Linked DNA regions of Homo sapiens: region 1 is linked to region 2. The links come from fine-mapping of genetic effects on gene expression. A gene starts in region 2. The other region holds a variant in brackets. All regions are shown on one strand. Distances are from middle to middle. Region 1 overlaps XRCC1 (X-ray repair cross complementing 1). Region 2 holds the start of ZNF575 (zinc finger protein 575).

Region 1 (4,386 bases), 35 kb before region 2:
GCAGCAGTTGTTTTGTTAACTTACTCCACGTCAGAGACCCTTTGGAATGACTGATTGCATCTGGCAATGACTAATTTGTGGGGTTACTCTGGATTCATCAAATGCTAATTTTGATTCTTTTGACGTAACTGATAAAGGCAGACATTTCTGGCCACCAAGGCAGTAGGCTTATCTCTGGGTTGTTATGTTATGTTTTGAGACAGGGTCTCACTCTCTTGCCCAGGTTGGAGTGCAGTTGCAAAGTCATGGCTCACTGTAGCCTCAACCTCCTGGGCTCAGGCAATCCTCCCACCTCAGCCTCCCAGATAGCTGGGACTACAGGCGTGTGCCGCCAGGCCCAGCTAATTTTAAAAATTTTTCGTAGAGATGGGGTCTCACTATGTTGCCCAGCCTGGTCTCGGACTCCTGAGCTCAAGCAGTCCTCCTGTCTTGGCCTCCCAAAGTGCTGGCATTACAGGCATGAGCCACTGCACCTGGCCACATCTGTGGGTTCTTCTACTACCCTGCATTTTCTCCTCTAATTATTGTTATGCAAAATCTCGATCTTACCACATGGGGCTTAGCCATCTGCTTATGACAGCCCCACACACCTGGTTGTTTGCAGTAGCCACAGCAGGCTCTGTTGTCTGTTCATCACCTGCTCCCAGAGGGAAATGCCAACCTCTTTGCTAACTACTCCTGGGCTGGAGGGGTGGCTTGGACAAGACCCAGATATAACTCTGGTGTGTCACTGGAGGTGTGTCATTTTTAGAAGAAATGTTCATCAGCAATAGGGCCTATGGTCATTTTTGATTGTTATTGGTTTTCTAATCACTCAGTTCGCCACTGTGGTGTCTTAAATTTGTTTTTACTGTTTTTTGATGTGTAACATACATAGAGTGAAGTGAAGGTGTAAGTAAGAGTACAGCTCAGTGACTCTTTGCAAACTGCAGCCCTGTGTACTCCACACCCAGATGCAGCACAGAACATGCCTAGCCCCCAGCAGTTCCCTCAGGTTCTTTCTGTCAGTACCCCTGCAAGGGTAACCACTGTCCTGATTGTTAACAGCATAGATTCATTTTGCCTGATTTTGAATTGCATATAAAATGGAATCGTGTGGTATAAACTTTTCTTATCTGGCTTCCCTTGTTATGTTTGTTCATTTCATCTATGTCGTTCAGTGTAGCTGTAGATGATTTATTGTGATTTTTTTTTTTTCTGAGACGGAGTTTCGTCTTGTTGTTCTGGCTGGAGTGCAATGGCACAATCTCAGCTCACTGCAACCTCCGCCTCCCAGGTTCAAGTGGTTCTCTTGCCTCAGCCTCCCAAGTAGCTGGGATTACAGGCATGCACCACCACGCCTGGCTAATTTTTTGTATTTAGTAGAGACAGGTTTTCACCATGTTGGTCAGGCTGGTCTCGAACTCCTGACCTCTAGTGATCCACCTGCCTTGGCCTCCCAAAGTGCTGGGATTACAGGCATGAGCCACTGTGCTCGACTCCTATTGTCTTTTTTTTTTTTTTTTGAGACAGGGTCTCACTATGTTGCCCAGGCTGGAGTGCAGTGGCACCATCTCAGCTCACTACAGGCTCGACCTCCCGGGCTCAAGCGATCCTCCCACCTCAGCCTCCTCAGTAGTTGGGACTACAGGCATGTGCCAGTTCACCAGTCTAATTTTTGTATTTTTTTTGCAGAGATGGGGGTCTCACTGTGTTGTCTAGGCTGGTCTTGAACTCCTGGACTCAAGCATTCCTCCTGCCTCAGCTTCTTAAATCCTTGGGATTACAGACATGAGCCACTGCACCTGGCCTATTGTCATTTCTGTATAGTATTCTGTTGTATTGAGATAACTATTATGGTTTTATTTATTTATATTTGATTTT[C/T]TTTTTTAAACGGAGTCTCACTATGTTGCCAAGGCTGGTCTTGAACTGTTGATCTCAGGTGATCCCCCAACTTGGCCTCCTGAGTAGCTAGGACTATAGGTGCACACCACCACACCCAACTAATTTTTTTTTTTTTTTTTAAGCTTTTTGGAGGCAGCTTCCTGAGTAGCTGGGATTACAGGGATTACAGACAGAGCCACAAAGACCTGGCCATTGGGGTTTTATTATATTTGCTTTCTGAATGGGTATTATATGCATATAGTGCAAAATTCAAAAGGTGCAAAAGGGTATACACTAAAAAGAAAATCTCCCCTCACCCTTTCCATCCCTCCCTGCTCCCTCCCCAACTCCTGCTCCCTCCCCAACTCCTGCTCCCTCATTCTTCTCTCCTGATGCAACCACCATTAGCAGTTTTTTTGGGTGGTCTTCCTGGGTCATTCTGTACACATACAAGCATATATACCTACCGCCTCCATCCCTTTTTAAAAAATTCATAGTATATACACTGTTCCCTTGTGTGTTTTTTTTCAAGTAACAGTGTATTTTGGAGATGCACACTGCATGAAGTTCTACCTTATTTATTTATTTATTTATTTACTTACTTACTTACTTACTTACTTTGAGACAGAATCTCGCTCTGTCACTCAGGCTGGAGTGTAGTAGTGCGATCGTGGCTCACTGCAACCTCCCCCTCCCAGCTTCAAGTGATTCTCCTGCCTCAATCTCCCTAGTAGCTGGGATTACGGGCACATGCCACCAGGCTTGGCTAATTTTTGTATTTTTGGTAGAGATGGGGTTTCCCCATGTTAGCCAGGCTGGTCTTGAATTCCTGACCTCAAGTGATCCTCCTGCCTTGGCCTCCCAAAGTGTTGGGATTACAGGCGTCAGCCACGCCGTGCGCAGCCTACCTTATTCTTTTAAATGATGCATACAATTGCATTTCATGGCCGGGCGCGGTGGCTCACGCCTGTAATCCCAGCACTTTGGGAGGCTGAGGCAGGTGGATCACGAGGTCAGGTGTTCAAGACCAGCCTGGCCAAGATGGTGGAACCCTGTCTCTACTAAAAATATAAAAATTAGCCAGGTGCAGTGGTGGGCACCTGTAATCCCAGCTACCTGGGAGGCTGAGGCAGGAGAATTGTTTGAACCCGGGAGGCGGAGGTTGCAGAGAGCCGAGATCGTGCCACTGTACTCTAGCCTGGGTGACAGAGCAAGACTCTGTCTCAAAAAAAAAAAAAAAAGAAAAGATTGCATTTCATGGATGTGAAACAGTTTTTTAGCAATATATCTCAGGAACTTTGCCTTCCTGTGCCATGTTTGTTTCAGGAACAGTTCATATCAGAACTGTGTCTCCCTGAGAAAGCTGCATGCACACGAACCCAGGCCATCGGTGATAGTCATCTTGTGCTCTTATCCTCACAGCTGATACATACTGAGCACTCATCTCTTATTTTGAGAAAAATTCACATAAAATTTACTGTTTTAACCATTTAAAGTGCACATTTCAGCCAGATGCGGTAGCTCACACCTGTAATCCCAGCACTTTGGGAGGCCAAGGCGGGTGGATTGCTTGAGGTCAGGGATTCGAGACTAGGCTGGCCAACATGGTGAAACCCCATCTCTACTGAAAATACAAAAATTAGCCGGGGGTGGTGGTGCGTGCCTGTAGTCCCAGCTATTCGGGAGGCTGAGGCAAGAGAATCACTTGAACTGGAAGGCAGAGTTTGCAGTGAGCTGAGATTGCACCACTGCACTCCAGCCTGGGCAACAGAGTGAGACTCCGTCTCAACAAAAAACATAAATAAATAAATAAATAAAGTGCACATTTCAGGGTTTTTTTTTTTTTTTTAGCATATTGACAATGTTCTTCAACCATCTCCATTCTCTAATTCAGAATATTTTCATCACTCCAAAAAGAAACCACATAACCATTAAACAGTCACTTCTTATTCTCTCCCCAATGTTGCCCTTGGCAACCACTGATCTACTTTCTGCTTCTCTGGATTTGCGTATTCTGGACTTATAAATGTATACGTGGTCTTTTACACTTAACCTTGTTACACTTTGCATAATGTTTCTGAGGTTCATCCATGTTGTAGCATATATCACAACTTCAGTTTTTTAAATAACTGGATGATATTCCATAAATATACTGTACAATGTTTATCTATTCATCAACTGATGGACATTTATTGGGTTGTTACCATGTATATATAAACCTTTTTTTTTTTTTTTTTTTGAGATTGAGTCTTGCTCTGTTGCCCAGGCTGGAATGCAGTGGTGCAATCTCGGCTCACTGCAACCTCTGCTTCCCAGGTTCAAGTGATTCTCGTGCCTCAGTCTCCTGAGTAGCTGGGACTACAGGCGCATGCCACCATGCCCAACTAATTTTTCTGTTTTTAGTAGAGACGGGGTTTCGCCGTGTTGCCCAGGTTGGTCTTGAACTCCTGGGCTCAAGAAATCCACCTGCCTTGGCCTCCCAAAGTGTTGGGATTACAGGCGTGAGCCACCACCCCAGCCTCC
Region 2 (4,386 bases):
GCAGTAAGCGTCTCTGGCCAAAGGCCTGGCCGCAGCTGGAGCATCGGTGCCAGGCAGTCGCCTGGCTGCCGGGCGCGGTTGGGGGGTCGTGACATAGGCGATGGGCGGCCAGCTTGGAGGGAAATGAGAAAGCCTTGGGGCAATGCGGGCAAGGATAGGGGCGGGCGTCGGTGGCGTGGTGCGTGTGGCGGTGGGCCGCCAGCTTGGAAGGGTAGCAGAAGGACTTGGGGCAGTCGGGGCACGGGTAGGGGCGGGTGGGTGCGTGGGTCCAGAGGTGAGCCGCCAGCTTGGAGCGGTGGCCAAAGGACTTCGGGCAGTGTGGGCACGGGTGCGGGCGGGCGCCGCTGTGCGTGAGGCGGTGGGCTGCCAGCTTGGAGGGGTAGGAGAAGGCCTTGGGGCAGTCTGGGCATGGGTGGGGTCGGGCGCCTCCGTGTGCTAAGCGGTGCGTGGCCAGCTTGGACGGGTACGAGAAGGCCTTGTCACAGTCGGGGCAGCGGTGCGGGCGCTGGGGCGGGGGCCGCCGGCGAGGCCGGGGAGGCGAGCCCGCGGACGCGGTGGGCCCTGGAGCTGACTGGCTGGGCTTCTGCGGTGGGCCCTGGTGGGGAGCTGGGGGACAGGAGGGCTGGTGGGCTCCAGGAAGCAGCCAACGCCCTGGGCCTAGGCCAGGCTCCGCCACGACTTTGATATTCGTGGGGCTCCTCCAAGTGTACCTGGGCACCTCAAGCATCACATTGAGACTCCCCAAATTGCATGTTTCTGCTCCCCCCTCCCCCCAGGCGTCATTCTGAGGGACTCCAAAGGGTTACTTTCCTGGATCCCCAAAGCTACTAAGGCTTCCTCAAAGCTACCAAGGTATCCGTTTCTAGTATCTTCCCAGTGATCACCCTGACATCCCGCATGTCATCCCTGACCCGTCCCTTCTGTAAGGCTCATTTCCTGAGCCTTAGCAAATGGTCACTGAGGCTCTCTCTGAGCCAAATGGGAGGATTTCCCAGAATGTGGCAGTTTTGGGGATCCCAAATAGTCATCACCCTAGGGCCCTCAAATTTTCACCCTGAGATTCCCCCAGAATGTGATTATTTTGGCCCCCGTTCCTGGAGAATGCTCCCTACTCACAGGCGGGGCACTCTCACCTTCTTTGGTCACTGGTTCCTTGCCAGTGGGACTAGGATCGGTAGCCCCGGCCGCGGACTCCGCGCCTCGCTCCAGCATCTTGCTGGCACAGGAACCTAGGGGCAGGGCGCGGGGCGGGGGTGACGCCGGTGATGACCAGGCTGATGGGGATAGGGTTGGAGGGCCTAAAATGAGGGATCACACTGTTTAGGAGCAAGGTCTGCAAGTATGGGATGCTAAGGCGGGGGCAGGCTTAGCGGGGAGGCGGAGCCTAAGAGCACAGTGAGCGGGGCTATGCAAATTCAAGCCAGAGGCAGTCCCTTCGCTATCTAAACCCAGGGTTGGAGTCTTTCAGCAGAGTGGGCGGAGTCTCCACAACTAACTCAGCGGCCGTCTTAAGCGCGGAGCCGGCGGGGCCTATGCGCAGAGTGGGCGGGACCTTCCCCACCAGACCCTGCAGTCCTGGAATGGGCGGGGCTGTACAAAAAAAGTCTTGTTCTGAAACTAGACCCAGGGGGCGGGGGCCTTCGAGCGGAGTGGGCAGGTCTTTCATCACCGTCCCAGGGGAGGGGCCTATGGGCACAGTGGGCGGGGCTTCACGTCGAAGACCTAGCTTTACCCGGCTTTTGACTTAGTCTCAGTTCATTGACGCCGCGTCAACTGCGCCCTTCTTGCCGTTAAATTTCATCCCTGGCTTGGATGGGGCCGTGGAGGATAGAGGGGGGACCTGGAGGAAGATACGGAAGGAACCTGGCATGCGTCGCGGTCCAGAGACCCCTAATGGACTTTTCCCTCAGAGTCCCAAGCGTAAAGGATTCAATGCACCCCTCGGAATCAGACATTCAGGCACCGATGCACCCTCCCGAGGCTCTGGCACCAATGCACAGTCCCTCCAGCATCTCCAGAATCTAGGCGTCCGGACCACAACCGATCTCCCTCGGGGTGATTCTGGCATTCAGCCTGCAAGCCAATATCCGCGCCCGAACCCCTGCGCCCTCACCTGCAGGACGGCCCCTCCCCGGGGGCGGGGCTTCCGGCTCCTCCCGCCACGGCCACGGCCGCAGCCGCTGTCGCCGCTGCTGCACTGCCCTCGGACCAGCGGAGCTGCCCCGCCCGGCGCGCGTCCGGCGTCGGGGGAGGGCAGGCAAGGGAGCGCGCGCAAGCTGCTTAGCCCAACCTCATTTCCATCCCCTCCTCCCACGCTGGACCAAAGGGGGCGTCAGAAAGCATGCGCAGTGCGGGCTGGCAGAGGCTGCAGAGAGGGGGAAGAAGGAATGGAAGGAGGGGCTGGGTGCGCCAGCCAGGCAGGCAAGTTCGTGAGCAAGCGCGAAGCTACCGTATCGACAGAAAGTGCACCGCCGGTGGCGGGGCCTACGGTGGCTGACTGGAGTCAAGCATGTACAAGACTAACATGGACAAACTGCGCTTGGAAATCAGTGCATGCACCCGTCTTTTTAATGTCCCTCTTCTTTTCGAGAATTCCGCTGAGTTCCATCTCCAGAGGCAGTTTCAAGAGCTCGCTGCTAATTCTACCCTTCAAGGCGTTTGCAAAAAGTCTGGCCAGTTCTTCGAGAGAGGGCGGGGGCGGGACTCCGGGCTCAAAGAGAGCCAGTGCCCAATAAAAGGCACGTTATTTGCACAGCGCCTTGGCACACCTCGCTATTGGGTGATTCAAGATTCTCAGCCACGCACCCATCTACCTTCCCCCTCGGAAGCCTGGGTGGTCCCGAGGTGCCCTGGCCCATGCTCTTGGTGCCAGGCCTGGGGTGGCATGCAGCTTAGCATTCTTCCCGAGCAGTGGCGGTGCACCTTCCTGCCTGGTGCAGAAAGGACCAGGAAATGCCCATAAAAGTCCTCTGCATGGGTGGGTCTCAGTCCGATAACCCGCAAGGTCTGGCGATCCCTGGGAGTTTGGCGGGGTTATTTGGACTCTGGAGCCAGATTGCCTGGGTAACTGGTTTGGAATACGGCTGTGCCACTTTCTAGCCGTGTGACCCTTTCTAGCTCTCTTTCTAGGCCTGTTTCCTCATCTATAAAATGGAGCGTTTTTAGGATTAAATATGATAATCAATGGAAAGTGTTTAGACTAGAAAGTGCCTAGGCCGGGCTCCCTGTCTCATGCCTGTAATCCCAGCACTCTGGGAGGCAGAGGCGGGCGAATCACTTGAGCCCAGGATTTCCAAACTAGACGGGGGCTAGGCACGGTGGCTCACGCCTGTAATCCCAGCACTTTGGGAGGCGGAGGTGGACGGATCACCTGACGTCAGGAGTTCGAGACCAGCCTGGCCAACATGGTGAAAACCCGTCTCTACTAAAAATACAAAAATTAGTCAGGCATGGTGGCACACGCTTGTAATCTCAGCTACTCCGGAGGCTGAGGTGGGAGGATGGCTTGAACCTGGGAGGCAGAGGTTGCAGTGAGCCAAGATCAAGCCACTGCACTCCAGCCTGGGCAACAGAGTGAGACTCCGTCTCAAAAAAACAAAAAAACCAAAAACCCAAACAAACAAAAATCCCAGCCTAGGCAACATAGTGAGACACCTCCCCATCTTAAAAAAAAAAAAAAAAAAAAAAAAAAAGTCTGGCTTAATGGCAGCCTGTAGTCCCAGCTATTTCACGGGGGTAGGGAGTGGGGACTCACCCAGGAGTTCATGTCTGCAATGAGCTATGATTGTGTTACTGCATTCCAGCCTGCGCAACAGAGTGATACCCCGTATCTTTAAAAAAAAAGTTTTTAAAATAATTATTCACTCATGACCAGTATTGTTTGATTTACCCCCCATCCACTCTTCCCAAATGATTCTGAAGCTAAATGTCAAACATCATATCTCATAAATATCTTTTTATTACACTTGATTTGCTTGACTTAAGATCTAAATGAGCTCCACACATTGTATTAGTTTGAAGTGACACTTCGGTCTCTCTCTCTCTCTTTTTTTTGAGATGGAATCTCGCTGTGTCCCCCAGGCTGGAGTGCAGTGGCGCAATCTTGGCTCACTGCAACCTCTGCCTCCCGAGTTCAAGCGATTCTCCTGCTTCAGCCTCCCAAGTAGCTGGGATTACAGGTGTTCACCACAACACCCAGCTAATTTTTGTATTTTTAGTAGAGACAGGGTTTCACCATGTTGGCCAGGCTGGTCTCGATCTCCTGACCTCGTGATCCACCCGTCTTGGCCTCCCAAAGTGCTGGGATTACAGGGGTGAGCCACTGTGCCCACCTCTTTCTTTTTTTGCACGGAGTCTTGCTCTGTCACCCAAGCTGGTGTGCAGTGG

What was found. PIP is the estimated chance that this variant, and not a neighbour inherited with it, causes the effect. A credible set is the group of variants that fine-mapping cannot tell apart.
Region 1: its variant is the best candidate, but not a certain one, in a credible set for the expression of ZNF575 in whole blood (INTERVAL, PIP 0.85).

Annotation. Positions count from the first base shown.
Region 1 is chr19:43,566,595-43,570,980 of GRCh38, reverse strand. The region is part of intron 2 of XRCC1 (X-ray repair cross complementing 1); the gene reads left to right. Among named protein-coding and RNA genes, the nearest start is that of XRCC1, 6.7 kb to the left of the region's middle. The variant C/T (reference allele first, on the strand shown) is at 1,864.
Region 2 is chr19:43,531,249-43,535,634 of GRCh38, reverse strand. It overlaps ZNF575 (zinc finger protein 575), which reads right to left and starts at 2,447. Exons shown (of 4, transcript NM_174945.3): 1 at 2,114-2,447; 2 at 1,733-1,840; 3 at 1,134-1,298; 4 at 1-606. The coding sequence starts at 1,212. RefSeq lists silencers at 2,032-2,341, 4,309-4,386.